Linked DNA regions of Homo sapiens: region 1 is linked to region 2. The links come from fine-mapping of genetic effects on gene expression. A gene starts in region 2. The other region holds a variant in brackets. All regions are shown on one strand. Distances are from middle to middle.

Evidence for each region. PIP is the estimated chance that this variant, and not a neighbour inherited with it, causes the effect.
Region 1: its variant is the best candidate, but not a certain one, in a credible set for the expression of ZFX in fibroblasts (GTEx, PIP 0.64).

What each region holds. Positions count from the first base shown.
Region 1 is chrX:24,224,264-24,240,098 of GRCh38, forward strand. No RefSeq gene overlaps it. Among named protein-coding and RNA genes, the nearest start is that of SUPT20HL2, 82 kb to the right of the region's middle. RefSeq lists a cis regulatory region at 6,845-7,196 and enhancers at 10,966-11,075, 11,136-11,325. The variant C/A (reference allele first, on the strand shown) is at 7,361.
Region 2 is chrX:24,140,417-24,156,251 of GRCh38, forward strand. It overlaps ZFX (zinc finger protein X-linked), which reads left to right and starts at 9,313. Exons shown (of 10, transcript NM_003410.4): 1 at 9,313-9,378; 2 at 11,275-11,384; 3 at 12,304-12,414. It overlaps ZFX-AS1 (ZFX antisense RNA 1), which reads right to left and starts at 9,238. Exons shown (of 3, transcript NR_046657.1): 1 at 9,139-9,238; 2 at 8,337-8,426; 3 at 5,809-6,035. RefSeq lists enhancers at 8,650-8,749, 8,956-9,769, 13,155-13,244 and silencers at 8,860-9,219, 9,280-9,689, 9,710-9,759, 9,810-10,319.

The DNA of each region.
Region 1 (15,835 bases), 84 kb after region 2:
TCAACTTCAACTTCATACAGTTCAACTCTTTATTGAAAAAATCAATACTTGCCCACTAATTTGCAGAGCCAGCTCCATGATATATAAAATATTCCTGTGTAAGTGGATCTGCTTCTAGGATCTCTGTTTTGTTCCATTTGTCATTTGTCTTTCTCTGTAACTGTGCCCCATAACTTTTTTTGCAGGGGCGGGGGAGGATGGAGTCTCACTCTGTCCCCCAGGCCAGAGTGCAGTGGTGTAATCTCAGCTCACTGCAACCTCCACTTCCCGGGTTCAAGTGATTCTCCTTCCTCAGCCTCCCGAGTAGCTGGGACTACAGGCACGCACCGCCACCCCCAGCTAATTTTTGTGTTTTTAGTAGAGACAGGGTTTTATCATGTTGGCCAGGCTGGTCTCGAACTCCTGGCCTTAAGTGATCTACCCGCCTCAGCCTCCCAAAGTGCTGGGATTACAGGCATGAGCTAGTGCACCTGGCCCCATCATGGCTTTTTAAAACAATCTTTACTGGGATATAATTCACGCACCGTAAAATCCAACCATTTAAGGTATACAATTCAAATTTTAGTATATTCACAGAATTGTCCAACCATCAACATGATCTAAGTTTAGAATATGTCATCACTCTCAAAAGAAATTTCATACCCAGTGCCGGTTGCGGTGGCTCACGCCTGTAATCCCAGCACTTTGGGATGCTGAGGCGGGCAGATCACCTGAGGTCAGGAGTTCGAGACCAGCCTTCCCAACATGGCAAAACCCCTCTCTACTAAAAATACAACAAATTAGCCAGGTATGGTGGTGGGCATCTGTAATCCCAGCTACTCAGGAGGCTGAGGCAGGAGAATCGCTTGAACCTGGGAGGTGGAAGTTGCAGTAAGCTGAGATCACACCATTGCACTCCAGCCTGGGTGAGAAGAGCAAAACACCGTCTCCAAATAAAAAATAATAATAATAAAAAAGAAATTTCATACCCATAAGCAGTCACTTCCCACTCCCCCCATCCTCCTAGCCTCTGACATCCACTAGTTTACCTTTAGTCTCTATAGGTTTGCTATGCTGGTCACTTCATATAAATGGAATCATAAAATATATGCTGTTTTTGACTGGCTTTTTTCACTTAGCACAATGTTTTCAAGTGTCATCCATGTTGTAGCATGTCTCAGTACTTTGTTTCTTTTTAATGGCCAAATAATATTCCATTGTATGGATATACCACATTTTGTTTATCCATTCTTCCATCAGTTGATGGACATTTGAGTTGTCCCACCTTTTGGCTATTATGAATAATGCTGCTGTAAGTATTTGTGTACAAGTTTTTGTGTGTACATGTTTTCACTTCTCTTGGCCATGAACCTAGAGGTGAAGTTGCTGACTCATATAGTACCTTGACTTTTAACATTTTTAGCAATTACCAGACTATTTTCCAAAACAGTTGCATGATTTTACATTCCCATCAGCAGTGTATGAGGGTGGAAGGATCACTTGAGCCTGGGAAATCAAGGCTGCAGTAAGCCGTGACTGCACCACTGCACCACTGCACCCCAGCATGGGCGACAGAGTGAGACCCTGTCTCAAAAAAAGAAAAAAAGGGAGAAATATTTGTTAGGCCTTCACATTGTATCCTGTATGTCTCTTGCACTTTTCAAAACATATTTTCCATGTTTTAGGTCTCTCCATGCTTCATTCTGGATAGTTTCTTTTAACCTGCCTTCTAGTTCAGTAATTTCATTATGGGCTACATATCATCTCTTAACTCTGCTACTCCTTTTTTTTCCCTTCTTAGTCTTGTTTCCTGCACTCAGAACCATTATTTTGAGATTCATCTCTATTGCTGCATATATCAATAGTTTATTCCTTTTAATTGCTGAGTATTATTCCATTGTATGGATACAGCACAATCTGCCCATTCACCTCTTGATAGCCATTTGGATTGTTCACAGTTTGGGGCTATTACATATAAAACTGCCATGAACATTTATATATTTGTGTGGACATATGTTTTCAATTCTTTGGGGTAGGTGGAATGACTAGTTTGTGTGGTAGGTATATATTTAATATTTTAGACATAGCCAAACTTTCCTACATAGTTGTACCATTTTACAATTCCACCAGCAGTGTTAAGAGTTGCAGTTGCTCTACATCCTCGCCAGCACTTGTTATGATCAGTCTTTTAAACATTTTAGCCATTTTAGGGTGTACGTTGTGATATCTCATTGTGTTTCCATTTTACTTTTAAATAATAAAGAGTAAAATTGACCTATTTGGTGTTCAGGTCTGTATTTAGAAGATAACACATAGTAAAATTGATGCTTGTTTTGGTGTAAAGTTCTATGAGTTTTAACACATGCATAGATTTATATAGCCTCTACCACAAACTGGATACGGAATTCCATCATCCCCCAAATCTCCCTTAGGCTGTGTCTTAGTAATTACACCCTCATCCCACCTCTAAGCCCTGGCAAACAGTCATCTGTTCTTCATCACTATAGTTTTCCCTTTCCCAGAATGTCATATCAATGAAATCATACATCTTTGAGGGTGTCTTTCATTCAGCATAGTGTCATTAAGATTCATCTATGTAGTTGCATGTATCAATGGTCTGTTCCTTCTTATTGTTCAGTAGTAGTCCATTATAACGCTATACCACAATTGTTTATTCATTCACCCATTGAAAGGCATTTGGTCACATAAAAAGCTTCTGCACAGCAAAGGAAACAATCAGCAAAGTGAAGAGACAACCCACAGAATGGGAGAAAATATTTGCAAACTACCCATGTGACAAGGGATTAATAGCCAGAATATATAAGGAGCTCAAACAACTATATAGGAAAAAGTCTAATAATCCTATCAAAAAATGGGCAGAAGATTTGAATAGACATTTCTCAAAAGACGACATACAAATGGCAGACAGGCATCTGAAAAGGTGCTCAATATCACTGATCATCAGAGAAATGCAAATAAAAACTACAATGAGATATTACCTCACCTCAGTTAAAATGGCTTATATTCGGCCGGGCGCGGTGGCTCACGCCTGTAATCCCAGCACTTTGGGATGCTGAGGTGGGCGGATCACCTGAGGTCGGAAGTTTGAGACCAGCCTGACCAACATGGAGAAACCCAGTCTCTACTAAAAATACAAAATTAGCCGGGCTTAGTGGCAGGCGCCTGTAGTCCCCGCTACTCAGGAGGCTGAGGCAGGAGAATCACTTGAACCCCAGAGGCGGAGGTTGTGATGAGCCGAGATCGTGCCATTGCACTCCAGCCTGGGCAACAAGAGTGAAACTCCATCTCAAAAAAAAAAAAAAAAAAAGCTTATATTCAAAAGACAGGCAATAACACATGCGGGTGAGGACATGGAGAAAAGGGAACCCTCATACACTGTTGGTGGGAACATAAATTAGTACAACCACTATGGAGAACAGTTTGGAAGTTCCTCAAAAGACCAAAAATAGAGATCCAGCAATGGATCTCTACCATATGATCCAGCAATCCCACTGCTGGGTATATACCCAAAAGAAAGGAAATCCGTACATCAAAGATATATCTGCACTCCCACGTTTGTTGCAGCACTGTTCAGAACAGCTAAGATTTGGAAGTAACCTAAGTGTCCATCAACAGGTGAATGGGTAAAGAAAATGTAGTACATATACACAATGGAGTACTATTCAGCCATAAAAAAGAATGAATTCCTATCATTTGCAGCAACATGGGTGGAACTGGAGATCATAATGTTAAGTGAAATAATCCAGGCACAGAAAGACAAACATTGCATGTTATTTGTAAGATCTAAAAATCAAAACAATTGAACTCATGGACATAGAGAATAGAAGGATGGTTACCAGAGGCTGGGAATGGGAAGTGGGGGGATTGGGAGGAAGGTGGGGATGGTTAATAGGTACAAAAAATAGATAGTTAGAAAGAATGAATAAGACATACTATTTGACTGCACAACAGGGTGACTGTAGTCAACAATAACTTAATGAACATTTTAAAATAATTAAAAGAGTGTAATTGGGTTGTTTGTAACTTAAAGGATAAAGTCTTGAGGGGATGGATGCCCCATTCTCCGTGATGTGCTTATTTCACATTGCATGCCTGTATCAAGACATCTCACGTACCCCACAAATATATACATCTACTGTGTACCCACAAAAATGAAAAATTAAAACATTTTTTTAAAAAAGTAAAAAAAAGAAAGGCATTTGGGTTTCCTTTTTTTTCACAATTATGGTTTGAGCTGCTATAAACATTTACGTAAAGGTTTTTGTGCACATAAGTTTTCATTTATGCAGGGTAAATACATGGAAGTGGGATGGCTGGGTAGTGTGGTAAGTATATATTCAACTTTTTAAGAAACTGTCAAAATATTTCCTAGAGTAGCTGTACCATATGTATTCTAATCAGAAATATATGAGAGTTCCAGTGGTTCTGCATCCTTGTCAGCACTTGGTATTGTCAGTTTTCTTTTCTTTTTTAGCCTTTTTTTTTTTTTTGAAAGAGGGTCTCACTCTGTTGCCCAGGCTGGAGTGCAGTGGCATCCAGCTCACGATGGTCTCTGCCTCCTGGGTTCAAGTGATCCTCCCTGCCTCAGCCTCCCGAGTAGCTGGGTCTACAGGCACGCACCACCATGCTTGGCTAATTTTTTGGTATTTTTTTTAGAGACAGGTTTCGCCATATTGCCCAGGCTGGTCTCGAACTCCTGAGCTCAGATGATCCACCTGCCTTGACCTCCCAAAGTGCTGGGATTACAGGCATGAGCCACCACACCTGGCCTTTTTTAGCCATTTTAATGTGCATTTCCCTAATGACTAATAATGTTGGGCATCTTTTCATATGCTCACTTATCACATATCATTTTTGGTTTAATACATTTTGCTCACTTTTCAATAGGCTTTTTTTTTTTTTACTGTTATGAGTTTATTATCTGGATACAAATCCTTTGTTGGGTATATGATTTGCAAATGTTTTCTTCTAGTTTGTATCTTGCAAAAGTTTTGGCTATTATTAATCTGTTATTAATTCTAGCCAGTATATTTCATCTTGGACATTGTAATTCTCATCTCTTGAAGTTTGATTTGGGTCTTTAAAATAAATCTTCCATGTCTTAACTTTTTGAACATATGAAATACTGTTATAACTCTTAATGTTCCTGTCTACTAATTCTAACATCCGTTCATTTAGGGGTTGGTTTTGATTGATTTATTCCCCACCCACCCCCCTATTTTGGGTTGTATCTTCCTTCTTTCCGTGCATAGTAATTTTTTTTTTTTTTTTGAGACAAGGTTTTGCTCTGTCACCCAGGCTGGAGTGCAGTGGCGTGATCGTGACTCATTGCAGTCTTGACCTCCCAGGCACAAGCGATCCCATCTCAGCCTCCTGAGTAGCTGAGACCACATACATGTGCCATCACACCTGGCTAATTTTTAAAATTTTTGGTAGAGATGAGGTCTCACTATGTTGCCCAGGCTGGTTCTCGAACTCCTGGGCTCAAGCGAGCCTCCCACCCCAGCCTCTCAAAGTGTTGGGATTACAGGCATGAGCCACAGGCGCGTGCCTGACCTGTGCCTAATAATTTTGGATTGGATACCAGACGTTATGAATTTTACCTTGCTGAATGTTTGATAATTTTTATTCCCATAAACATTCTTGAGCTTTATTCTGGGACACAGTTAAATTACTTGGAAACAGTTTGATCCTTTCAGGTCTTGCTTTTAAAATCTGTTAGGCAGGACCAGAATCCTTTAGGATTAATTATTCCCACAACTGACCCAAGACTCTTCTGCGTACTCTACCAAATTCCCTGTGCATTTTGAGGTTTTCCAGTCTCGTTAGTGGAAACAGTCCGTTTCCACTTGGCCCTGTGTAAATTCTCAGCACCATTCCCTCTAATCTCTTCAGCTGGTTCATTCCCTGGCCTTGGGTAGTTTCCAAACATGCTTGGACTGATTAGTACTCTGTTGAATACTCAAGGGGAACCCTCTGCAGATATCTGGAGTTTTCTCTGTCTTTGCAGTTTCCTCCTCTCTGGTACTCATTCCTGCAGATTCTAGCTGCTTTGTCACCCCAGATTCTCAGTTTGTCTCCTCAACTCAGGCTGTTTGTTAGGTTATGCAGGGTTCTCCTTCCCCGCACCGTGACCTGGAAACTCTTTCAAGGCAGTAATGCAGGGCAATTTTAGGGTTTACCTTGTTTCCAAGCTCTCTCCATGACTGTTATTTGTTGCTTTAATGTTCAGTGTCTTGTAACCTATTGTTTCATCCCCCCCCCACCATCTTTTTGGTTGTTTTGGATGGGAGGATAAAGGTAATCTTTTTAGTCGATCTTGGCCAGAATCATCCTAATAGTTTTTCATTGAATGTTTGGTATTGCACATGAAAAATTATAGACATAATTTGATTCCCTGTACAGTGTTTTTTCTTTGTTTTTGAGACAGTGTTGCTCTGTCGCCTAGGTTGGAGTTCAGTGGTGTGATCTCTGCTCACTGCAACCTCTGCCTCCCAGGTTCAAGCAATTATCAGATTATCTCCTGCCTCAGCCTCATCAGTAGCTGGGACTACAGGCACATGCCACCATGCCCGGCTAATTTTTTTTGTTGTTGTTGTTGTTATTTTTAGTAGAGATGGGGTTTCACCATGTTGGCCAGGCTGGTCTCGAACTCCTGACCTCAGATGATCTGCCTGTCTTGGCCTCCCAAAGTGCTGGGATTACAGGTGTGAGCCACCACGCCCTGCCTACGGTGTTATTTTCTTATAGTTTTATTTTAGCTTCTGGCTGTCAGTTGAAAGTGGGCCAGTTCTCCTTAATCTACTCAGGGATTGAGCTGATTTGAATCTGGGAATAAGTCTTTTTGAGGGCTTATTCACTTCTGATTCACCAGTTTTCTAAATATTTGGCCTTTCAGATATTCCAGCTGAAAGCATGGAGTGTTTATGAGGGTCTCTTCCTTGGTGGACTCTAAAGTCTAATTTCCTCCCTATCCCTTTGAGACTGTTGGAAGCACTGCACAGCTCCTCCGTATATATGAGTCATCACTTTCTGCTCAGCTTTTCAGCCTTTCAGCTGTGTGTGTGTGTGTGTGTGTGTGTGTTTTAAATCAGTAGATGACTCGATGGAAAAGCAGCACTGAATGTTGGTCTCATCTTTGTATGTTTCTCATCTATCTTTGCTCTCACGTCCTCATTGTACTAGTTCTGATACCTTCAAATAGATCTTAAACATCTTGTCTAGTTTTTCTGATTGTGCTTAGTGAGAGAGTTGGTATGCAAAAAGTTAGTCTACTTCTGCCTGAAACAGAAAACCTACCTTTCATTTTTTGTTGTTGGTTATTTTACTTCATCAAAGTGTTTGGAATTGGCATTCTATT[C/A]TATGGTCATAATTTACAGAGTTGTTTAGTGGTAGTTCTAAATGTATATGGTTACACTGTTCACCACCAGCCTTTTCACCATTGCAGTGCTGTTTTTGAGCTGTTTATTTTGATTCAGGATTTAGTTGGCTGGATTTTATTCACAAAAATTTTTCTCTGGGATCCTCCTTCCCCTGTTCCAACTGGCTTGATTTCTCTCCAGGTTGATTTGTGCAGCTGCTATCCTTGAATTACTTATTATTTTCCTAGTTATATTTACTATTTCTTTAACATTATATCTTTCTCTTTCTAGGCTTACATAGTCACATGCTGGAACACATCCTCTAAATTCCTGAAAAGGGTTTAAGAAGATAAATATTAAGTCCATGCATGTCTCAATACGTCTTTCTTCTGTTCTCACTCTTGACAGTTGCAGCTATATTAGTGCCTTTCTTATTACATTTAGAGGTACTGATGAGAATTCTAAGCATAATCTCATTCCATTTTATTTTGAAGCAGTATGTCTTTTCTCTTTGGTAACTTTATGAATTTTATTCTTTATTCTTGGTGTCCTGATATTTCCCCATGATAGACCCAGATATATTTTTAAAAACTGATCTTCCTTGCATTTGAGCGACTCTTTAAATATGAAAACTGGTGTCTTGTTTTCACCTCTGGGGAATTTTCATCTCATTTCAAAAATGATTTTCTCCCCTCTCTTTTCTTTAGCTTCTCTGGAACTTTCATCAGATCAATGTTGATACATCTGGATCTTTGTTTTCTAACTTTTCTTGGACATTTTTGTCTTTGTCTCTTTTGTTCCCCTTTTGCACTTTTTTTTTTTGAGATGGAGTTTTGCTCTTATTGCCCAGGGTGGAGTGCAATGGCGTGATCTTGGCTCACTGCAACCTCCGCCTCCCAGGTTCAAGTGATTCTCCTGCCTCAGCCTCCCAAGTAGCTGGGATTACAGGCATGTACCACCATGCCTGGCTAATTTTGTATATTTAGTAAAGATGGGGTTTCACTATGTTGGTCAGGTTGGTCTTGAACTCCAAAACTTCAGGTGATCCACCCATCTCGGCCTCCCAAAGTTCTGCAATTACAGGTGTGAGCCACCGTGCCCAGCCTGCACTGTGTTTTTAAAAATCACTCAGAAAAATTTTTTCTCCAGCTAGAGTTTTTTGATATTCAATTTTTAATTTTCTAATCTTTCACTGGTTTGTTTCTTCACAGCCAGTTCTTGTTTTATGAATGTGATCACCTCTTTAATCTTTCTCCAGATATTAATTATAATGGATTTTAAGTCATCTTCTGTTTTCCATATATACCCCTAATAATTTTAATGTAAATCAAGACCATATGTAATCCATTTATTGCAAGGCATCCATCCAAAGAAATCTAGGTCAGCAGCTAAAATTCATGACAAGTAATTTGCAGCATTTTGTTTCTTGAGAAGAGCCAAAGAGGAAATGTATTTTTAATGCCTAACATCTTAAATATTTCTTCTCCCCAAATATACCCTACACCTCTGGCAATAGAGCTCTGAAAATCTCTCCAACTAGCACTTTTCAGCCCTACCCAAGTCCCCTCTAATATCTAGTCCATACAGCTTCTATTTTTTCCCTTTTGCCCATCTTTTTCCAACTTGGAATCTCTGATACCTTCAAATAGATCTTAAACATCTTATCTAGTTTTTTTGAGACAGGGTCTGTCACCAAGGCTGGAGTGTAGTGGCATGATCATGGCTCACTGCAACCTCTGCCTCCTGGGCTCAAGCGATCCTCCCATCTCAGCCTCCCAGGTCACTGGGAATACAGACGTGCACCACCACGCCCGGCTTTTTTTGCCATGTTGCCTAGTCTGGTCTCGAACTCCTGGGCTCAAGTGATCTGCCTGCCTCAGCCTCCCAACCAAAGTGCTGAGACTACAGGCATGAGCCACCGTGCCTGGCCTTATTTCCTTTTTTTTTTTTAATTTCTCCTTGTGGGTTCTCTACAACAAAGGAAACCTAGGAGCTGTAACATGAAGAATTTTCCTCCCTTAGAAAATGAAGATAGTGAGGGAAGATTGTGAATTTTTGTCCCTGTTAGGCTTTTCCCAAGGAAGTATTTGAAAGTCTCTCTAAACAGAATCCTGGTATTTTATGGTAGCACCCAGAGACAACTTTTCTTCCAGTTCAATCTTTATCCTTTTCCTTTTGGGGTGAATTTAATTACTTATTTTTTGAAATCCTGGAGGTCCTGCCAGGTCGAGCTTGACTCAATCATGATTCCTTCTCACAAACTTCAGAGCCAGGGAGTGGCAGACACGCCACAGTTTCTGCCCTACATAATATGAAAAGGAGGATATGCTCACCAAGCGGTTATCTTTGTGTTTGTAGACTGCTGCTGCATGACCTTCTTTCTTTGCGGCTTGAAGCAAACCCAGGACACACAGAGCCTCCCAATGTTTGGAGCTAGCCCTTTAGCTTTCATTTTGCATGTGTCTGGGTTTCCAAAATGCCAGGGTTATGAGTAGCCAAAAACTCAGTGCTACCCAGTTTTTTTTTTTTTTTGAGATGGAGTCTTGCTCTGTTGCCCAGGCTGGAGTGCAGTGGCATGATCTCAGCTTACTGCAACCTCTGCCTCCTGGATTCAAGCAATTCTTCTGCCTCAGCATCCTGAGTAGCTGGGATTACAGGCACGCACCACCACACCTGGCTAACTTTTGTATTTTTAGTAGAGGCAGGGTTTCACCATGTTGGTCAGGCTGGTCTCAAATTCTTATCTCATGATCTGCCCGCCTCGGCCTCCCAAAGTGCTGGGATTACAGGTGTGAGCTACCGCATCCGACCTGTGCTACCCCACTTCTAACTCATTCTGTTCAGCTGAAAGCAAACTAGTGGGTACAGTCTTGTAACTGAACTTTTGGGAGGGGGGCCCTATTCAGGTTTCAGACTTTGCTCATGCAAAGCACTGGCATCTTGCTCATCCTGGGTACATCTTGTATTTGGAATCACTTCTCTCACACAGATCTCCACCAGAATCCTCCATCTGAGCTTTATCATGTGATATGGTTTGGCTGTGTCCCCACCCAAATCTCATCTTGATTTGTAGCTCCCATAATTCCCACGTGTTGTCGGAGGGACATAATTGGAGATAATTGAATCACGGGGGCAGTTTCCCCCATACTGTTCTCATGGTAGTGAATAAGTCTTATGAGATCTGATGGTTTTGTAAGGGGAAACCCCTTTTGCTTGGCTCTCATTTCTCTCGTCTGCTGCCATGTAAGATGTGCCTTTCACCTTCTGCCATGATTGTGGAACTGTGAGTCCATTAAACCTCTTTTTCTTTATAAATTACCCAGTCTCGGGTATGTCTTTATCAGCAGGGGAAAACAGACTAATACATCATGTAAACTTGCTTTTGGAGAACAGATATGGTAACCTTTTCCTCTCCCTCAGATCAGCTACACCAACTATGAGAATTCTGAAGATTATGATGAAGTCCATGATAACTGAATACATCTTGAGTATAAATTAGGATTACAGGCCCTTCATCTACATCAGAGGTTCTTAGCTCTAGCTACATGCTAGACTCACCTGGGATCCTTTCAAAGTTCCTCTTTGCAGGACTCAGGCCAGGCCAATTGAAGGTGAATCTCTTGGGAGGAGGGCAGGCATCAGTATAAAAAGCTCCCCAGATGACTCTGTGCAGCCGAGGTTGAGAGCTGCTGCTCCTGGCGCCTCTGGCCCTTCTAGCCTTGCTGGCTTCTTCCCCAGTAGATGCCTGCTGTGATTGTTGTTCCAATCTGAAGAAACAGAGGTGCCCTTTCTCCTTTCTCACCAACCTGTGCTGATAAATTGGGCCTGTGAATTTCAGTAGTTGTCCATTCTGCTATTCTCTCTAGGGGTATAAAGCAGCCCTCAAAAACCAAAACCAAAACCAAAACCAATTTTGGTGACCTAAGGTTCATGAACAACTCTCACACTGGAGTCACTTAATTGATGTTCACTTCTTGGGGCTTCCACCTGTTTACTATTTCATTGGCACCTCTAATCACAGATCAAGCCTTCTGATCTGGTACCTTAAGAGGTACTTCTTACTAATTTGTTTCTGGTAAGCCTATGTTGTCACAAGCCTCACAGAGGCTACTAAGTCCCAGGGAGCTGATAGCATTGGTGGAGCCCAATAGGACCCTGAGTGAGTGCAGGCATATTGGTCATGGATCCCCTGTCCCCATCCAGAAGCAACTTCAATTTCTTAAGAAACTGGCCATCTTGCAAGGGTGGCTCACAACTGTAATCCCAGCACTTTGGGAGGCCAAGGCAGACGGATCACTTGAGATCAGGATTTTGAGACCAGCCTGGGCAACATAGTGAAACCCTATCTCTACTAAAAATACAAAAATTAGCCAGGTGTGGTGGTACACACCTGTGGTCCACCTAATTGGGAGGCTGAGGTGGGAGGATCACTTGACCCCAGAAAGTCAAGGCTGCAGTGAGCCTGGATCATGCGGCTGTACTCCAGCCTGGGTGACAGAAAGATACTATGACTCAAAAAAATAAAAATAAGGGGCAAGGCGCAGTGGCTCAAGCCTGTAATCCCAGCACTTTGGGAGGCCGAGGTGGGCAGATCACGAGGTCAGGAGATCGAGATCATCCTGGCTAACACGGTGAAACCCCGTCTCTACTAAAAATACAAAAAATTAGCTGGGCATGGTGGCGGGCACCTGTAGTCCCAGCTACTCAGGAGGCTGAGGCAGGAGAATGGTGTGAACCCGGGAGGCGGAGCTTGCAGTGAGCCGAGATCGTGCCACTGCACTCCAGCCTGGGCGACAGAGCGAGACTCCGTCTCAAAAAAAATAAATAAATAAAAATAAATAAATAAGAATAAGACCGGGTGTGGTGTGGCTCACACCTGTAATCTCAGCACTTTGGGAGGCCGAGGAGGGCGAATCACCTTGAGGTCAGGAGTTTGAGACTAGCCTGACCAACATGGTGAAACCCCGTCTATACTAAAAATACAAAAAATAAATTAGCTGGTCATGGTGGCACAAGCCTATAATCCCAGCTACTTGGGAGGCTGAGGAAGGAGAATCGCTTGAACACAGGAGGCAGAGGTTGCAGTGAGCTGAGATCTCACCACTGCACTCCAGCCTTAGTGACAGAGTGAGACTCCATCAAAAAAAACAATAAAAATAAAAAATTTGGTCATTGGTGGAGATTAGGTTTTACTTTTATTTATTTTTTGAGACAGAGTCTCGCTCTGTCGCCCAGGCTGGAGTGCAGTGGTGCGATCTCGGCTCACTGCAAGCTCCACCTCCCGGGTTCACGCCATTCTCCTGCCTCAGCCTCCCGAGTAGCTGGGACTACAGGCGCCCACCACCATGCCCGGCTAATTTTTTGTATTTTTAGTAGAGACGGGGTTTCACCGTGTTAGCCAGGATGGTCTCAATCTCCTGCCCTCATGATCCGCCCACCTCGGCCTCCCAAAGTGCTGGGATTACAGGCGTGAGCCACCGCGCCCAACTGAGATTAGGTGTTAAAAAGACAATGGATTTTCTCGATTTGGTAGACTTACATAATATCACGTATGTTTGGTTTTCTCTCTGGTATATACAATTCAAACAGCATATTCTCACCAGATGTACCACTCTGATACCAGACTTCACAATGTCTCTCTCTTGGGCTATCTGGGGTTAATGTCAGAATTATCATGGCTTGGAGCTGGGCAGCTCCTATTTTTTGACATCATTGTTGGTGAAACATGGTGAAAATGTTTTCTGGTTCAGGTTTAGCATGAAAGGTTTTTTTTTTTTTTTTTTGTTAAAATAAGGCAGGGTCTCACTGTTTCGCCCAGGCTAGAGTGCAGTGGTGAGATCACGGCTAACCACAGCCTTGACCTCCTGGGTTCAAGCAATCTGCCTGCCTCAGCCTCCCAAGTAGCTGGGACTACAGGTGTGCACCACCATGCCCGGCTAATTTTTTATTATTTTGCTTACAGAGGTGGAGTTTCACCATGTTTCCCAGGCTGGTCTCGAACTCCTGGGCTCAAGTGATCCTCCTGCCTCAGCCTCTCAAAGTGTTGGGATTACAGGTGTGAGCCACGACACCCAGCCAGCATGCAACTTTTAATCTGAAGTCCATCTGAATATCAGACCTTAAACCCCAAAGATGGTTTACAGCACTCCAAATATAACCCAGGCCCTATGCCCCTTGCTTTGCTGGAGAAGGGACAGGACAGTCAAGAACTATCCCCTGCATGACCTTTTCCTGTCTTTGTCTTCTACTTGGGAAAAAGCAAAGTATTCTGGGTGATTAGAGAGGTAAAACGTGTAGCATGCCCACACCCTCAGCCAAGGAAACATACGAAGTTGGTTATTTCCTTCATCTTCTGTGCCATATGGAGTCTAAAGATCTTGGAAGGTTGGCCCTTATCCATTCAACTCATCTTATGTACCTGTGTCCGGTCCTTCAGTCAGTAGAGAGTGACCTCCTTGAACCATTTCCTTCCCATCTTTGTCCCTTTCCCCATATTCCTTAGTCTTTTTATCTGTTATCCTCTTTCATCTTCCTGTCTCCTCTTCTGTCATGGACTGTCAGTTACATTGTAGCCCATCCACTTTCCCTCTTGGATAGAGGTGAGGGGGAGAAACCTTTAGGGTCCTGAAGGTGGAAGTCGACAGTGGAAGAGTTCATCGTGATGCCGTGACTTGTGGGTGAAATAGTTATAAAGCAATCAGACATTTCTGTGAAGGAGAACTTCCTGTTGGTGTATATTTTGAACTTAATTATGCTGAAAGAGTTCGTGTCTCCTTCTCAACATTTAATTAGTTTTTTTTTTTTGAGATGGGGTCTCACTATATTAAGCCCAGGCTGTTTCAAACCCCTGGCCTCAAGTAATCCTCCCATCTTGGCCTCCCAAAATGCTGGGATTACAGGTGTGATCAGTTACGTTTTTAAAAAGCCCTCTTATCACCCCTAACTTGGGATGTGGCAGGCTCCTTGAGGTGGAGTGGAAAGAAAAAAAACACACAAAACTATCTCTCCATAAGCTGTTCCTTGTGTTGGTTGAGCTTGGTGCCTGTCTTTCGTGGCAATGGATTTCTTCAGGTGTCCTGTGGTTTTTGTCTGTGTGCTCCTTTTGCTGTGTGAGATCTTCTGCTTTTGCGGCTACGGATGCTGGCTCTGATGGAGAAGCTTGTTTTGAGGATTATGGGGTTGAGTGGAGTGGGGCTGCCTTTGTCACTTGGGGAATGGTGGCCCCGGGGGCAGTTTTAGGCAAAGAGTAAGCACAAGCCCTTAGAGAAAATGGGAGAGAGGAGAGGGGGCGAAGAGGGGGCTGAGCGGGGGCGGAGGTGGGAGGGTAGGGAAAGGGAGAGAAAGAGGGAGAGAAAGAGAGAGAATATTCCACATGTAGTCTTCAAATTAACCACCTGGAAGATTGTCCCATGACCCCTGCACACTCCATCTATTGCTCCCCAATTTTTCCAGTCTCCTTCCTCAGTTTCCTCTTGGGTTTGTTCTCACCTTCTGTTTTTCCTTCAAGAGTTCCTCAAATCTTTTGGTTTATAGTGTTTGGCTTTCTAGTGGTATTATACATAAATAATTAAAAAATTTTTTTCCTGTGATTTCAGTCATTTGGAAGGGATTTAGGTGCATGTGATCCATTTGAAATTTGTATCTAAATGCCAGGAGGCTGCCTTGGAAGGGCGCAAGCTCCCCACCGTGACAGGCTTCTGTGTTTAAGTAGAAGGAAGAAGGAGAATATTTAAGTATGTGACAGGGAATTACTCCACGTTGATGAATTTCAAAAAATGTTCACTGTGACCTGTAAGAAGAAATACATTTTACATAGATGTTCATTCATGATACAGGTAACTGAGACAAGAGTTTCATTAAACAATGTTTACCCTATGTGTAAGGCATCGTGAATTTTTTTTTTTTTTTTTTTTGAGATAGAGTCCCACTCTGTTGCCCAGGCTGGAGTGCAGTGGTACAGTCTCGGCTCACTACAGCCTCTGCCTCCCGGGTTCAAGCGACTCTCTTGCCTCAGCCTCCCGAGTAGCTGGGGACTATAGGCACCTGCCACTACACCAGGCTCATTTTTTTTATTTTTAATAGAGACGGTTTCACCATGTTGGCCAAGCTGGTCTTGAACTCCTGACCTCAGGTGATCCACCTGCCTCGGCCTCCCAAAGTGCTGGGATTAGGGATTACAGTCATGAGCCACCGCGCCCAGTCTGATTTTTTCTGAGTCAGGGTCTCCTCTGTCGCCCAGGCTGGAGTGCAGTTGGATAATTATAGCTCACTGCAGCCTCCGCCTCCCAGGCACAAATGATCCTCCTACCTCAGCCACCTCAGCCTCCTGAGTAGCTGGAATTACAGGTGTACACCATCATGCCTGGCTAATTTTTATATTTTTTTTGTAGAGACAAGGTTTCCCCATGTTGCCCAGGCTGGTCTCGAACTCTTGAGCTCAAGTGACCCACCCGCCTTGGCCTAAGTGCTGGGAT
Region 2 (15,835 bases):
GTGTTTTAGTAACAGATTTTGGTTCCCTGACCCAGTATGCTTTGCTTGTGGCTTGGCTGCAGTGGGCTGCTGGGAGTCTCAGAAGCCCTCCTAAGCAGCTGCCCACCCAATTTAGGCTGGAGGTGAGTTTCCTTTTCTCTGGCCCCTCTGCAGCCAGCCCCAACAGGGTTCCTGATTGCCTCGGAAGAACAGTCTTTGAAATTTGACAACTGCATCCAGATAGGATGAGTGCACTTTTTGGGCCCAGACAGCAGGATCTGCTCCTTTCAGTTTGGGAAATTTGTAAAGGAATTCCCATTTGCAGGTTGAACAAGCCCAACTGAGGCTGGGCCCGGTGGCTCACATCTGTAATCCTAGCACTTTGGGAGGCCGAGGCGGTCAGATCACTGGAGGTCAGGAGTTCGAGACCAGCCTGGCCAACATGGTGAAACCCCGTCTCTACTAAAAACACAAAAATTAGCCAGGCATGGCGGTGGGTGCCTGTAGTCCCAGTTACTTGGGAGGCTGATTAAGGAGAATCGCTTGAACCCAGGAGGTGGAGGTTGCAGTGAGCCGAGATGGCGCCACTGCAATCCAGCCTGGGTAACAGATGGAGACTCTGTCTCAAAAAACAAACAAACAAATAAATATAAATAAATAAAATTATTGGTAAAATAAAAATAGAAATGTCTTCAGAGTTGTCAGCATACATTTTTGTTTGGGTTTTATATTTGTCTCTGCTAGATATCTTGAGATATCAGGGTTTGGCACAGAAGGTTATAAAACTATAAACCCAGCCAAAACAAAATGACCTTTATGCACATTTTTAAGTAAGTAAGACTAATTTAATATTATTGGTTTAATGAAAAAAAAAACAGCAGAATATTCTGAGTTAGTGGTGAAAATGCCCATGTAGTTACCTTTAAGGTTCTTAAAAGGTGAACACCTGATATTCACAGTTTGTAAAATAGATAACAAGGAAATGATTTATAAATAACCTAAACTGCTAAAAACAAAATATCAATGAGTAAGTGCTATAGGTGAACTTCTTGTCTAACTTAAAATCTTAAAGTTATTTTTGCTGCTTCATTGGATGTCTGGGTCATTTCCCATTAAGAAAAGATTATGATATGGGGAAACATGTTTCTAAAAATCGTGGAATGGTTCTCATCTATAAAATGCTAATATGTGATAGGCAGCTCAGGATTTCTTGCTTCCCAGGTTTTCACTAAATTTAAAGTTACTAAGGAAAAGAATTCTAGTTAAGATATAATTCTGTATATAATATGTGCCCAAGAAGATGTGGTTTTATTGAGAGAAAGAATAATTTTATCTAATTCAGAAGTTATCTGAAGATTAATTCAAATTACAGACTTCAAAATGTTATTCAGGAAACAAGGTAGAAAGGAACCAGGAAGTAGAGGAGAGATGTGAAGAAAGTTATAGATATGAAGATGTATTTTTGGTAAGGAAGGTTTTAAAGAAAAGAAAATTTAGGACAAAAACAGAAAGTCGGTCGGGCGCAGTGGCTCACGCCTGTAATCCCAGCACTTTGGGAGGCCAAGGTGGGTGGATCATGAGGTCAGGAGATCAAGACCATCCTGGCTAACACGGTGAAACCCCGTCTCTACTAAAAATACAAAAAATTAGCTGGGTGTGGTGGCGGGCGCCTGTAGTCCCAGCTATTTGGGAGGCTGAGGCAGGAGAATGGTGTGAACCCGGGAGGCGGAAATTGCAGTGAGCTGAGATCGTGCCACTGCACTCCAGCCTGGGCAACAGAGCAAGACTCGTCTCAAAAACAAAACAAAACAAAACAAACAACAACAACCACAACAAAAAACCCAGAAAGTCCAAGCATGTACCAGCACTAAAGTACTTACTGGTCATGTGCCTACAGCAAATTTCTTAATTCCACAAAATGTATAGTGGTATTGGTAGATTTAAATATATTAATTTGGGGCCGGGTACAGTGGCTCATGCCTGTAATCCTAGCACTTTGGGAGGCTGAGGATCACCTGAGGTCAGGAGTTCGAGACCAGCCTGGCCAATATGGAGAAACTCTGTCTTTACTAAAAATACAAAAATTAGCTAGGTGTGGTGGTGTGCACCTGTAATCCCAGCTACTTGGGAGGCTGAGGCATGAGAATCACTTGAACCTGGCAACCAGAGGTTGCAGTGAGGTGTGATCCTGCCACTTCACTCCAGCCTGGGCGAAAGGGCGAAACTCCTGTCTCTAACTAACTAACTAACTAAATAAATAAAAAGACATTACTTTGGCTGGGTGTTGTGGCTCATGCCTGTAATCCCAGCACTTTGGGAGGCCAAGGCGGCGGGGGAGGGGGGGGGGGGTCTCTTTTGAGGCCAGGAGTTCGAGACCAGCCTGGGCAACATAGTGAGACCCTATCTCATTTAAAAAAAAAGTTCCCCAGGATTTTAATTGACTTTAAGATGTGCAACTAGAAAAACTACCTTAGACAAAATTAGTTAAAAGACAAGCAGCAGACAAGGAAATGATATTTGTAACATACATAATTAGCAAAGAAGTATATTCAGAATGTAGAAAGTATTTCTACAAATGAATAAGAACAATAGAAAAACAGACAAAGGTTATTCCAAGGCAATTTTCAGATGAGGAAAACTATAGCTAATAAAGAGTGAAAGATACCTTGAACTTACTTGTTATCAAGGAAATGTCAATTAAAACAATTTTACCATTTCTCACTTATTAGATTGTGAAAAAGTATGAGCACATCAAGAGTTACGAAGGAGTAGGGAATTGGGAATTCTCATATTCTGCTGGAGGGAATGTTTATTAGGATAGTCATTTTGGAGAGTAATATTGAAAATGTGCCATATTCTGAAATTTTACTTGTTTATACTCCAAGAAAAACTCTTATACATGTGGGCAAGAGGCATTTACAAGGATGTACTAATATTTCTTAAAGTGTTATTGGTGTGTGGATGACTTGTCTGTGTATCACCAAGACTCCTGGTTAAACTGGCCCTATCCCATACCTACTGTATCAGTCAGGGTTCTCCAGAGAGAAACAGAGTCAATAAGATATATACATAGATATATAAGAGGAGATTTATTATGAGAATTGTCTTATGTGATTATGGAGGCCAAGCAGTCTTACAGTCTGCCTTATGCAAGCTGGAGAACAAGGCAAACTGGTGGTGTAATTTGATCTGAGTCCAAAGGCCTGAAAACCAGGAGCTCCAATGTCCCAGGGCAGCTCAAGAAGAGAATTCACCTTTCCTCTGAATTTTTGTTCTATTTAGGCCCTCAATGGATTGGACGATGTTCACCCGCGTTGGTAACGGCAGATCTTTTTTTTTTGAGATGGAGTCTCACTCTGTCACCCAGGCTGGAGTACAGTGGTACAATCTCAGTTCACTGCAACCTCTGCCTCCTGGGCTCAAGTGACCCTCCTGCCTCAGCCTCCTGAGTAGCTGGGGTTACAGGCACTCACCACCACGCCTGGCTAATTTTTTGTATTTTTAGTAGAGATGGGGTTTCACCATGTTGGCCAGGCTGGTCTCAAACTCCTGACCTCGTGATCCGCCCCACCTCGGCCTCCCAAAGTGCTAGGATAACAGGTGTGAGCCGCTGTGCCTGGCCGATAAGGACTAGTTTTTAGACATAATCACACCATCATTATATCTAAATGAATTAACATTACAATAATTTGTTTATATGAGCATGTATCCAGTCAGTATTGACAAAATCCAGTGTTCATATTTCTCCAATTGTCTCATATTTTTAGTTTTTTGTTTTTATTTATTTATTTATTTATTTATTTATTTATTTATTTATTTTTTGAGACAGGGTCTCATTCTGTCTCCCAGGCTGGAGTGCAGCGGCATGATCTCAGCTCACTGCAGCCTCAACCTCCCGGGCTCAAGCGATCCTCCCAACCTCTGCTTCTTGAGTAGCTGGGACTACAGGAGCCCCACCGTGCCTGGCTAATTTTTTTGTACTTGTAGAGGTGGGGTTCCATCATGTTGTCCAGGCTAGTCTTGAACTCCTGAGCTCACTGGCCTCCCAAAGTGCTAGGATTACAGCATGCGCCACCGCACCTTACCTACAGTTTGTTTGAATCAAGATTGAAATGAGCCAGGTGCCGTGGCTTGTGCCTGTAATCCCCCCACTTTGGGAGGCCGACGCAGGTGGATCACTTGAGTCCAGTTCAAGACCAGCCTGGGCAACATGGCAAAACCCTGTCTCTACGAAAAATACGAAAATTACCTGGGTGTGCTGGTGTGCACCTGCAGTCCCAGCTACTCAAGAGGCTGAGGTGGAAGGATCACTTGAGCCTGGGAGGTCGAGGCTGCAGTGTGCCGTGATTGCACTACTACACTCCAGCCTGGGCAACAGAGAGAGACCCTGCCACAAGAAAAAAAAATGAAATGAAGTTCATACACTGCCATTGATGAACATGTCTTTTAAGTCTTTTCTAATCTATTGATTCCCCTCCTATTTTTTTCTAATAAGTTGTTTGTTGAAGAAATGTATTTGTTAAATGTTGAATTTTTCTTATAATTTGTTTTCTTATAATTTATTTGTTTATTCTTATCTTTCATTTGTCCTTTAGAGTTTCTCATCAACTGGATTTTGTCGACCGCATCCCTGTGGTTTCATTGATATGTTTCTCTGTTTCCTGTATTTCCTGTAAACTGGTAGTTAGAGCTAGAAGGTTGATCAAACTCAGGTTCGATTTTTTTTTTTTTTTTTTTTTGTCTAGTAGCATTTTGTCCTTCCATCTTGAGGCATGTTTCTGGTTTTCTCTCTGCTTAGCAGCCACTGATGATCATTGCCAAGGTCCATTAATTCATTAGATGTTGCAAAATGGTGATATTTTGCAGTCGACAAAATCCAAAATGGTGATATTCTAATTTCATCAGGACTTCTTCATGTATTAGTTGGAATACTTCTATTAAAAGGAAGGTCCCTTCGTCAACTATTTGGTTACTCTGAGGAGTAGATCTTACAGGCTTCATCTCTTTTCCTTCACTAGTTTTCAAAATATTGAGTTGGTTCCCTAGCATTCTCCAAAAGTGATCACTTAAAAAATTGAAATATGACTCTTATACTATCAAATTCACCCTTTTAAAGCATACATACGTCACTAATTTCTAGTACATTTACAAAGTTGTGCAACCATCACCACTAGTTGATCATTTTTAAAGTCTCATAAATTCATTAACATATCCACTATGTTTCACTCCATAGCAATTTTTTTTGACATCCAAATTTTCTTAATGTTAGACAACCTAGTAAGCTTGGACACTTTCTTCTTTTGCTTTCTGCTATAAGGAGATGTTCCTGGCTTATCTTATACTTTCCTGCTCCAGCCCTGGAATCAATCACTTCTCCCTTTCCTTTGGTGGGAAACTGTAGAGGCCCCAACTTGGACACCAGGGGTGCTCACTGCTACTGCTCATTGTTTCTAGGCCTCTATATTGATTTTTTTATCTCTTTAGTGGAGCTAGTTTGTTTGCTGTGCCCTGTGATTTATAATCCATGAAGAATTTGGCTATTATTTTCAGGAATTAAACAATGTCTTGTTCGACTAATGACTCATGTAAAAAGCACTGCTTGAAAATCACCTATTTGCCAGTCATTGTTTATTTTAAAATTATTCTCCTTGGGGAGAGTGTGTGGCTTAAGGGCTCAGATGAAAAATTCTTACTTGGCATTAATTATGGCCAACTGAATTCCAACAGAAGATGCAACTTGCTCACGCTAAGTATAACCTAAGTATCAGGTGTCAGATAAATGGTTAATTTTTGTAGGGCATGCTTAGTTCAATAAAACTAGGGCCTTTCTAGGGGAAGATAAATATTTTTTAATGTTTGGGATACAAAAAAAAAAAAAGAATTACCACAACTTTATTCAAGAAGGTCTACATTTTCTCATAAGCCAATAATTTATTGCTTCTTATTTGAATTCCCATCAGTCTCCGATGTGGAGTGAAAATCAACAGCTTCTTTTCTGACTAATCTTTCTCTGGAAAAATGATTGAAAGGCCTTCTATCGTTTCTGGCTCAAGGACCTATAAACATGTCAGAGATTTTTAGTTAATTTATTAAAACACTGTCAAAACCTTGAGTAAATGCTTTTAACTATCTGATGTACATTAACAGCTCTGAAGGAACAAATACATTTTAGCACGTAATCAAAATTCCTTTTACTGCTTTGAAACCAGCTATTTTGTATTCATAGCATTCTCTTTTGAAATGTTCTGCTCTCGACCTCCCTAGATAAAATTTCCTTTTATTATGTTTACTTAAGTGAGAAAATGAAAGTACTTAGGAATGTTTTTATTTTGCCTTACACAGCCTCCTTATTCGAGTTCCCCAAGGGCAAGCACATCTTTGTTACTTCCTGTGCCCAGAATTCTAAAGGTCCCTAATACGAAAACAATTATCAAGGCAAGATAGGCTGCAGTAGGTCCTTTAAGTGCAAGATGTCTGGTGCTTAATTACCAAATGCTTTCAAGGATCTTAGGTGTCCTCAAGGTCCTATTGTGAGTACTTTCATAAAATGCATTTTGTATTTTGTCACATCAAACAATTTCTGATCTCTGCTGTTTACACTTCCTTTTCATCTTCACTTTATCATGAGTATAATACTAAGTGTACTTCTAGTGAAATGATTTTTACCATTGTTCTTTTACCAGTTAAACAATGTTCTTTACAGACTTCCATAAATGGGCTTAAAGTACAACTTTACCTTTTTTTAACTAAAAAAAATATAGTTGACCTTATCTGTATAGTCATCTATAAAATAACTGGACTTTATAAAGTTTGCTGGACTTTAATAAAGGTTTATCTAATCTAATAGAACTAGGCCATCCTTTCTTTGTTTCCCACCAAAGTTAACAGTCTCTTCCTGTATGAAAAGTAATGACAAAGGGCTCTTTGAAAGTATCAATCCCTAAACTACTTGTGATCTTTTAAACTGAGAAAACTTCTTTTTCTTTCATGCTCCTTGGACACTGTTTTCTTAAGTGCTTTACACTGGTGGATGTATAAGTATTTTTGATGGTAATTATGGAAAAACTAACAAGAATGGTGACATTAGGTTTTTCTGTCTTGAACATGCTGCTTACAGTTGCATGGATGAAGTGAGGCTCTATTCTTCTTCTTTTTTTTTTTTTTTAATAGAGACGAGGTCTCACCATGTTACCCAGGCTAGTCTTGAACTCCTGGGCTCAAGTGATCCTCTCGCCTCGGCCTCCCAAAGTGCTGTGATTACAGGACTGAACCAGGGAACCTGGCCTCCATTCTTGCCATACCGTAGCATCACACTGAGGCCCTTGGAAAGTACTTAAACGCTGATTATCAATGTTTTGAAATATTAATGTGGGCGGCCGGGCACGGTGGCTCACGCCTGTAATCCCAGCACTTTGGGAGGCCGAGGCGGGTGGATTACCTGAGGTCAGGAGTTGGAGACCAGCCTGGCCAACATGGTGAAACCCCATCTCTACTAAAAAAATAGAAAAATTAGCCAGGCGTGGTGGCAAGTGCCTGTAATCCCAGCTACTCGGGAGGCTGAGGCAGGAGAATCGCTTGAACCCCGAAGGCAGAGGTTCAGTGAGCCAAGATCACGCCATTGCACTCCAGTCTGGGAGTGCAAGAAATATTAATGTGGGCACACAAGCTATTTCTCATTTTTTTTTATTGAAACAACATTGCTTAGTTTCATTTACCTTTCTGTGAAATGTCTTTCTGTGAAAGTCTATCACAGCCTGATGTAATTTTTATAAACAATGAATACATGCTGTTACTATTTTTGAAAGGAAATTTAATCGCTTGGAAAAATTCAGACTAAAGCCCCGAGAGGAAAATTATCATCCAGTGCATGCTCAGAGATTTCTTCTTACTCTACTTTTGTTTTTCCTTTTTGAAAGCATTTGTGATTGAGAGATGTCTGAGGGAAGGGACAAATTGCATTCTGGGAGTTTTAAAGAGTTATGTCAGGCAACTAAAATACGTGGCCTCTGTATTTAAAGAGATTTCACACCAGTATACTATTTGCTTTATAATTTTTGTGTTTCTTATTGTTTAAAAATGCCTTTAACATTTAGTGCTGTGTTAAAGGATAGCATGCCAGATTCCAGATTAATGTAAAGACTCCACTATTTAACTTTTCCCTAGTAACTTTAAAACAGAGTTTGGGTTCCAAGTTCAGCATGGAAAGATAGCATAAACATTTAAACTAAGTAAAGTGCGAAATACACATTTTTGAAGTTGGTAAGTGCTGTTTAATCATTTTCCCCTTCTCTCCCAAGTCTTTTGAAACTTCAAAAGGCTTGTTTAAGCAGTGTGTTTAAAAAAAAAAAAATCCATACCCAATTGGGCTCCTCTCTATTAAGGAATGTGGAAAATTCATGATTTATGAAACGATGACACCAGTCTTACATTTCACAGGCTCCCAAGCTCTGAAACACGGGTACATAGGAAAATACACAGAAAATTCCTGTTCTTTGCAACGTGCGAAACGTTTCAAAATGCAACTTTGCTCATCTCCCTCCCCCGTACAAACTAATAAAATCAGTTTGGCTCTGACTGCTTATTTTTAAAAAGTAGACGGCCTGGTAGGTGCTCTAGGGATAACCCTTCTCCCCCCACTCCACCCCCCTTCCCGCACACCCATTTAGACTGGCAAGCCCGTTTTCATTTTATTTCAAAGATTTTTTTTTTTTAAGCGAAGGCAGGGGACGGCGGGGGTTGCTAAATTTATCTTCCTCCCCAGCCACGGGGATGAAGAAAACACATTTACTGCGGGCGGGGGTCTGAGGGCCTGCAAACAACTCGAGCTGGAGCCTCGGCCAGGACCGGCGCGAGAGGCGGTAGGTCTCCAGGGAGGCCCCCGGGGGGCGGCCGCGGCCCACGGGACATGGTGGGGGGCGGCCGGGCCGCCTGCCTCTCCGCGGGGTCGGCCGACCGCGGCCCCGCGCGGGCTTTACGGCCGAGGCGGCGGCGGCAGCGGCGCGTGTGTGGCGGCGGCGGGCGGGAGCGCGGAGGAGGTGGAAAGAAGGGGGGCGCTGTCACGGAGACTCCGGCCGCCGGAGACCCCGCCGCAGCGAGGCCACTGGGCTCCCCGGTCGCGGGGCGGGAGCGGCGCCGACACGGGGTGCCAGGAGGACCCACCGGGCGGAGGAGGGGGCCTGTCTACCCTTCCGCATTTTCCTGGGTCTCTCTCCCGGGCGGTGACGTGACGTGCTGACGGCGGGCCCGTGCCGGGGAGCTGGGCCGCTTTTTGTCAGCTCCGAGCTCGGCCCCTCCTCCCTCCCTCCGCCCGCCCCACCAGCCGGAGCCCGGCCCAGTGCTCCAGAGAAAGGCCGGCCTGCAGCACCCGCCACCGTCGCCGGCCGCCCGCACGTCCGTCCGGTGAGTCCCGGGTGCCGCCGCGGCCGCGGGGCCTAGTGCGCGCACAGCGGCCTGGTCTCGGCCTGGTCGGCGGCCCGCAAGGCGCCCTCCCGCGCTAGGCCGGGCGGCGTGGCGCGCGGCGCCGAGCAGGCCCCGAGGAGGCCGCAGTTAGGCCCGGGGAGGAGCCCGGCTGCCCCGAGCGGCGGCGGAGGCGCGCTCCGTAAGCGGGCGGGGGTTGGGGGAGGGTCGCCCGGTTGTGCCGGAGGCGGTCGAGGGGCCCCGGGTCGGCTCCGCGGCCGACCTGGGGCACCGCGCCGGGGTGAGGCCTGGCGAGGAGGCGAAGGCTGCAGGCGTGAGGTGAAGGCCGCAGGCCGGCCGGGCCGATTTTCGCTATGTAAATATCGGTGAGGGGGGGGGAGGGACGGGGGACAAGATGGCGGCGGCTCGGCGCCTGCTGCAGGGGACGATAGAGGGGGTTGCCGGGAGGGGGAGCCGCCATCTTGGAGGCGGTGTCTGGAGAGAAAATTCCGCTACAGCCCGTGAGGGGGGGTGGGAGAGCGGGCGGCGGCGGCAGCGGCGCCGGTGACGGGCCCCGGAGGCCCGGCGCGGCGGCGTGTGCGCGCGGAGGGGCGTGCTCGCTCCCCGTGGCGGCCATTGCCCTTGCCGCCATGATGAGCGCTCGGGCTCCAGGCGCTCGGCGGCAGCGCCACCTTCCTGCCTTGCCTCCCGCAGCCCCGTGACTGGCTGCAGTTTCCGCTGCGTTTCAGCTGAGCTGCCGCAGGCGGCCACCGCCGCCGCCCGGACGCCGGGACCGTTTCACCCTCAGCGCCCCTGGCCCTGCGCCTTCCCCCGCGCCTGTAGCCACCCGAGGGCAGTCGGGGCAGGTGGCATTCCGGACACCTGGGCTTACCAGGGCATACGGGACCCCAGGAAATGTTATTTTTGCTTAAGTCAAATCATATGTGGCTGCTAAGGTGCTTTCGATGCAGTTGTTTTTCCAACAATCTTTGCCGCCCCGAGTATCTGAATAAAGGAAGAAAAATAAAGATTGATGGGAAAGTTTTTGCCATTCTTTTGTCCTATAGGGAAAAAAATTGCACAACACGAGAGCGGAGGAATAAAATTTTGAATCATTCGTACTCATTTATGTGGAAACAACTTTCTTGAAAAACGATTTAAGTAGTGATCTGTTGGTGGTATTTTTTTAAATCGAGGAATAAGGGCAGACTTTTTTATTTTCTTATTGGAGGACAACTTAGTGTGGTGCATATTTATTGTGCATTTGCCTGTCATGGTATTTCGATTTTTCATTTGTGAAGTTTTAAGGCGGAGTTTCATCCCCTAACGTACTTTTTTGATTGCACACTGTGCAACTTTCTTGATAAACTCGGAGCCTACTGTTAGCGATGCACCGTGCTAGATGCTAAGAAACATTAAAAAGGTTCTTGTAATGCAGACGGTGGCTGCAAGAAGTCTCATGTTTAGAGGTAGGTGGGGCAAGGTGAAATGCAGTAAAGTGAGAGGTACAACTAATTACTGGGATTTCCGAGGGAAGCAAGGTTGCCATTGGAGGATCAGGGAGGGACGGGTTCCTGAAGTATTAATAGGTGGCATTTTGAGAAGGTTACCGAGGGATGGGTAGGACTTTGTTAGGTAGAGGTGGAGGTGGAGAAAGGACGTTTCAAGGGTGAAGCTTCTTCAGTAAACAGTAAGTATTTACAGTTTGGCAAAAGTGGATGGTATAGGTAGGGGAGTGGTGGGAATTCAGGCTAGAAAAGTTAGATTGCAGAAGGGCTTGCTTGCCAGGTGGAGGGGCTTATACTCAATGGGGTAGGCAGCGGGGGTGCCCTCAACTAGAAGAGTGATGGCACACCTGAGCTGCACCTTGTTATTTACTTATTTTTTATTTTGAGACAGGTTCTTGCTATATTGCCCCAGGCTGGTCTCGAACTCCTGGGCTCAAGCCGTTCTCCCGCCTCCCACTGCCCGCCTGTCACTGCCGTCTGTTCCCTGAGCTGTGCTTTACGGTACTTAGTAGTTCCATTGGACTAGGAAAAGTTTCAAAGTTGAAAAATAATGAGAGTAGTAAGTTGATCAGTGTTTTCATTATCAGAACGATTACAAGAATGTTCAGAAGTTAAGCAAATTTTGCTACTTTTGGAACGATGCGTCTCTATTAAGACAGCTGCTCCTTTTTTCTATCCTGATTTCTCATCCGAAATAATCTTTTGCTCAGAGTTGTCAGAATTTCTATGGTACACAAATAGGGAGGGGTTTCTAACATTTCATTTACCATGGTTGAAAAGTACAGGACTAGTGCTGTGGGTTATTTGACGAAAATGAGAAATGAGTATTCCCGTGGTAATTTTTTTTTTTTTTTGAGACTGAATCTCACTCTGTCGCCCAGGCTGGAGTGCAGTGGTGTGATCTTGGCTCATTGCAACCTCTGCCTCCCGGGTTCAAGTAATTCTCCTGCCTCAGCCTCCCGAGTAGCTGGGACTACAGGACCCTGCCACCATGCCTGGTTAATTTTTGTATTTTTAGTAGAGACAGGGTTTCATGTTGGCCAGGCTGGTCTCGAACTCCTGACCTCAAGTGATCTGCCTGCCTTGACCTCCCAAAGTGCTGGGATTACAGGCATGAACCACCGTGCCCTGCCTGTTTCCTAGAATTTTATGATGGAAACCTTTAGGTGGCATAGATACCCATTTTCAGTTTTTCCATTTTTCTAGACTGTAACAGGTCGTGAGCAGCGGTGCTCCATGAAAGGGCTGGAGGGAATGAGAGTCTCATGTTTATTATAAAGGGCTATGGTTTAGAAAAGTTCGAGAAACAGTGCATTGCATGAGGCTGACTAGAAGCAAGTTGAGAAGGCGGGCTGTGGTTGTTGAGGTGTTAAGGGTAAACATAAACTTAGAAGAACCAGGTGCTTTTATATTTTGACAGCTGGGAAAGACATAGAAGAACTATTAAGAAGATAGAATTGTTTTGCTGCGCAGTACAGCAACAGTGGATGTTCAAGATTAAGATTAGAGTCAAGTTGTGTGATTAAGACAGGTAAGTGTGTAGTTTAGTTTCAATTAGAAATGGTTAAATATAAAATTATTTTTGCCTGAAAGGGTAGACCTTGAAACTTTGGAAAACTGACTGGTGGAACACCTTCGAACCCAACCACCCTGGATGAATAAGGTGTTAGTTTTTAATTTCTGTGTATTTTTCAGATAGATGCAGATTTCTTTTTTTAAAAAAACATGCTCACGAATGTGTTACAAATTTTTTTTTCCACATTGCTTTTTGTAAATGCTTACTCTCATTGCAAATGCTTACTCTCACTTAACCCATTTAGACTGATTCTGTCACTGATAATCTTCTTTGTATTATTTGTTCTTGTGTACACTGGCAATTCCAAACTTTTTTTCACTCTTAAAACTACTCAACGGGTCCTTGAAATCTCTCATCTTCAGCAAAGATTACCCAGTCTTTCACTTCACTGAGAAGGGTAGATGGCCATCTGATAAAGAGCCAAGTCTCCCCTCCCTTCCCCTTCATGCCTTTCCTGTCTTCACCTAGGCCTTCCTCCTTTTGCCGCAGGGGAGGTTGCAGGAGGGATTGCTGTCTCACAAGCCCCACTGCTGCTCTGAGCCTGCTCTTCACCCTGGCTGCCTCCTTAGGGACCAAGCTCTGTGCGTGATGCCGTCTCTTGCATCATTAACCTCTCTTTACAAATATTCCTAGGTTTGCTCATCTTACAAAAGCCTCACCTGTCTTCACTTTCTTTGCACCCCACTTATTCTTAAATCCAGTATTACCCAAATTGGGAAACTTGCACAGCATGTTAACAGGTGTGTTATATAAAAGTGCTCTGTGTTTCAGAAACTCTCTGTGCCTTCTCTGTCTTCTATGGTGGGATTCCCCTTAATTTATCATTTAATGTATTATATTTGAACTGTGTGTTTATATTTTTTCCTTCTACACTGTGAATATAGAGACAAGTTCTGATTTATCTTTGTCTCCAAGCAGTACCTGGCATATGGACCATTATCTCTCAAAGCAATAATTTCGGTTACTGGGTACAGAGAATTCTACGTAGTTAATAGTTTTCAGCTGTTCAAAAATCAGGTATCCAGTCAGTGTGTTTTTTGACTCAGGGACATACATATTAAGGCACACTTATTAGGGCACCAGGTCAAGGAGTAACCCCTCCCACCACCCCTTATCTGATTGGAATATGGCCAGCCTATTCTTATTCCTGCCAAGTTATTTTTCCAGACAACATTTTATAAAACCCAGGTATCTTGTAATTGTATTTTACTCAAAGGAAGTATACTCTAAGGAAATTGTGTGGCCTTGAGGTACACAGCCATTAGGCATTTAAAAAATATATTTAAAAAGTTTTATGGAATATTTTTAAATTACTGAAAATCAGAATCACCCAGATTTAAGAGATCTTAATATTTTGCTACATATTTGATTCATATCTTTTTGTTGTTTAAAGAAATAAAATCTCACAGATTCAAAGGGTCCCTCCCCATCCCCTTCCTGTCTTCTTTTCTCCAGAAGTAACCACCTGTCCCAATATGTATGTACCAAAACAATATCAGGTATTGCTTGTGTGTTTAACTTTACATAAACAGTATCATAACCATACCTTATATATTATTTTTACTTAACAGTGTGTTTTTGAGATTTATCCATGTAATGTGTTTAGTCCAGCAGTTTTCAAAGTGTGCTGCAGGGATTCCTGGGGATCCCTAAGATTCTTTCAGGGGGTCCATGAGGTCAAAACTATTTTCATAATACTTTTTATTTGCTCTTTTCACCCACATTTTCCTGTACACTATAGGAATACTGTACAGAGGCTGCATGACATATGATGTCATAATAGATAGAATGCAGAAACACTTACGGGAATCCAGCCGGTTTCTATTAAGCCAGACATGAAAGAGATTTGCAAAAATGTAAAACAGTGCCACTTGTTTTACTATTTTTTTTTGTTTAGAAAAATAGTTATTTTAAAATAAATATGCAGCCATAAAAAAGAACGAGGTCGTGTCTTTTGCGGAAACATGGATGGAGCTGGAGGCTATTATCCTTAGCAAACTAACGCAGGAACAGAAAACCAAATACCGAATATTCTCACATACAGGTGGGAGCTAACTGATGAACACAAAGAAGGAAACGAGACACTGGGGGTCTACTAGAGGGTGAAGGGAGGGAGGAGAGAGAGGATCAGAAGAGATAACTATTGGGTACTGGGCTTAAATACCTGGGTGATGAAATAATCTGTACAATAAACCCCCGTGACAGAAGTTTACCCATGTGACAAACCTGCACATGTACTCCCGAACCTAAAATAAGAGTTTTAAAAAAATCTCAACAAAAGGGAAAAAAGGAATAAAGAAAAAAAGTATTTTTATGGGTTAATAAGTGCTTTTAAATATCTCAGTTTTAATTTCTAGTATGATAAACATCTATAGATACGACCCACGTAAAAACTCTTTGTGGTTCTTAATTTTTGTTTTTTGTTTTGTTTTTTAAATTTTATTGTGATCCTTAATTTTTAAGAGTGCAAAGGAGTCCTGAGACCACGAAGTTTGAAAACTACTGATTCCATTCATTTTATTTGTATTTCAGTGTATAAATAAATATACTGTGGTTTATTTATCTTTTCTTCTTGGAGGGACCGATAGAAACTGTTTGCAGTTTCTGAATTTCAAACACTACTGCTATGAACATCCTTATACATGGTTTGTCTTTCTTGGGATTATATACATATAGTAGAAGTAGAATTGCTTCATTTAAGAAGTCTGTGCATTATCAACTTTACTGGGAATTGCCAAAATGGCAAATTGTCTTCTATTTGACACTCCCGCTGTGTTTGATCCCGTTTCTCCAAATCACTGCCAAAGGATTAGATTTTGCAATTTTTTCCCAATCTGTTGGGTATAAATGGCATCTCCTTGCTATTTTCATTTTGCATTTCTAAGATTACTAGTGAGGTTGACCTTTTTTCCCCATGTATTTATCGGCCATCAGAGTTTTCTATTAATTGCTTGTGCATACCTTTGGTTCATTTTTCTGTTGGATTGTTGCCTCCTCCTTATTGGTATATGGGTTTTATTTATTTATTTATTTATTTGAGATGGAGTCTTGCTCTGTTGCCCAGGCTGGAGTGCAGTGGCACGTGGTCTGGGCTCACTGTAGCCTCTGCCTCCCAGGTTCAAGCAATTGTCCTGCCTCAGCCTCCTGAGTAGCTGGGATAACAGACGCCTGCCACCATGCCCGGTTAATTTTTGTGCTTTAAGTAGAGACGGGGTTTCACCATGTTGGCCAGGCTTGTCTCGAACTCCTGACCTCAAGTGATCGGCCCTCCTTGGCCTCTGAAAGTGCTGGGATTACAGGTGTGAGCCACTGTGGCTGGCTGGTTTATGGGTTTTATATTCTGGATACTAATTTGTGATTATATACACTGAAAATA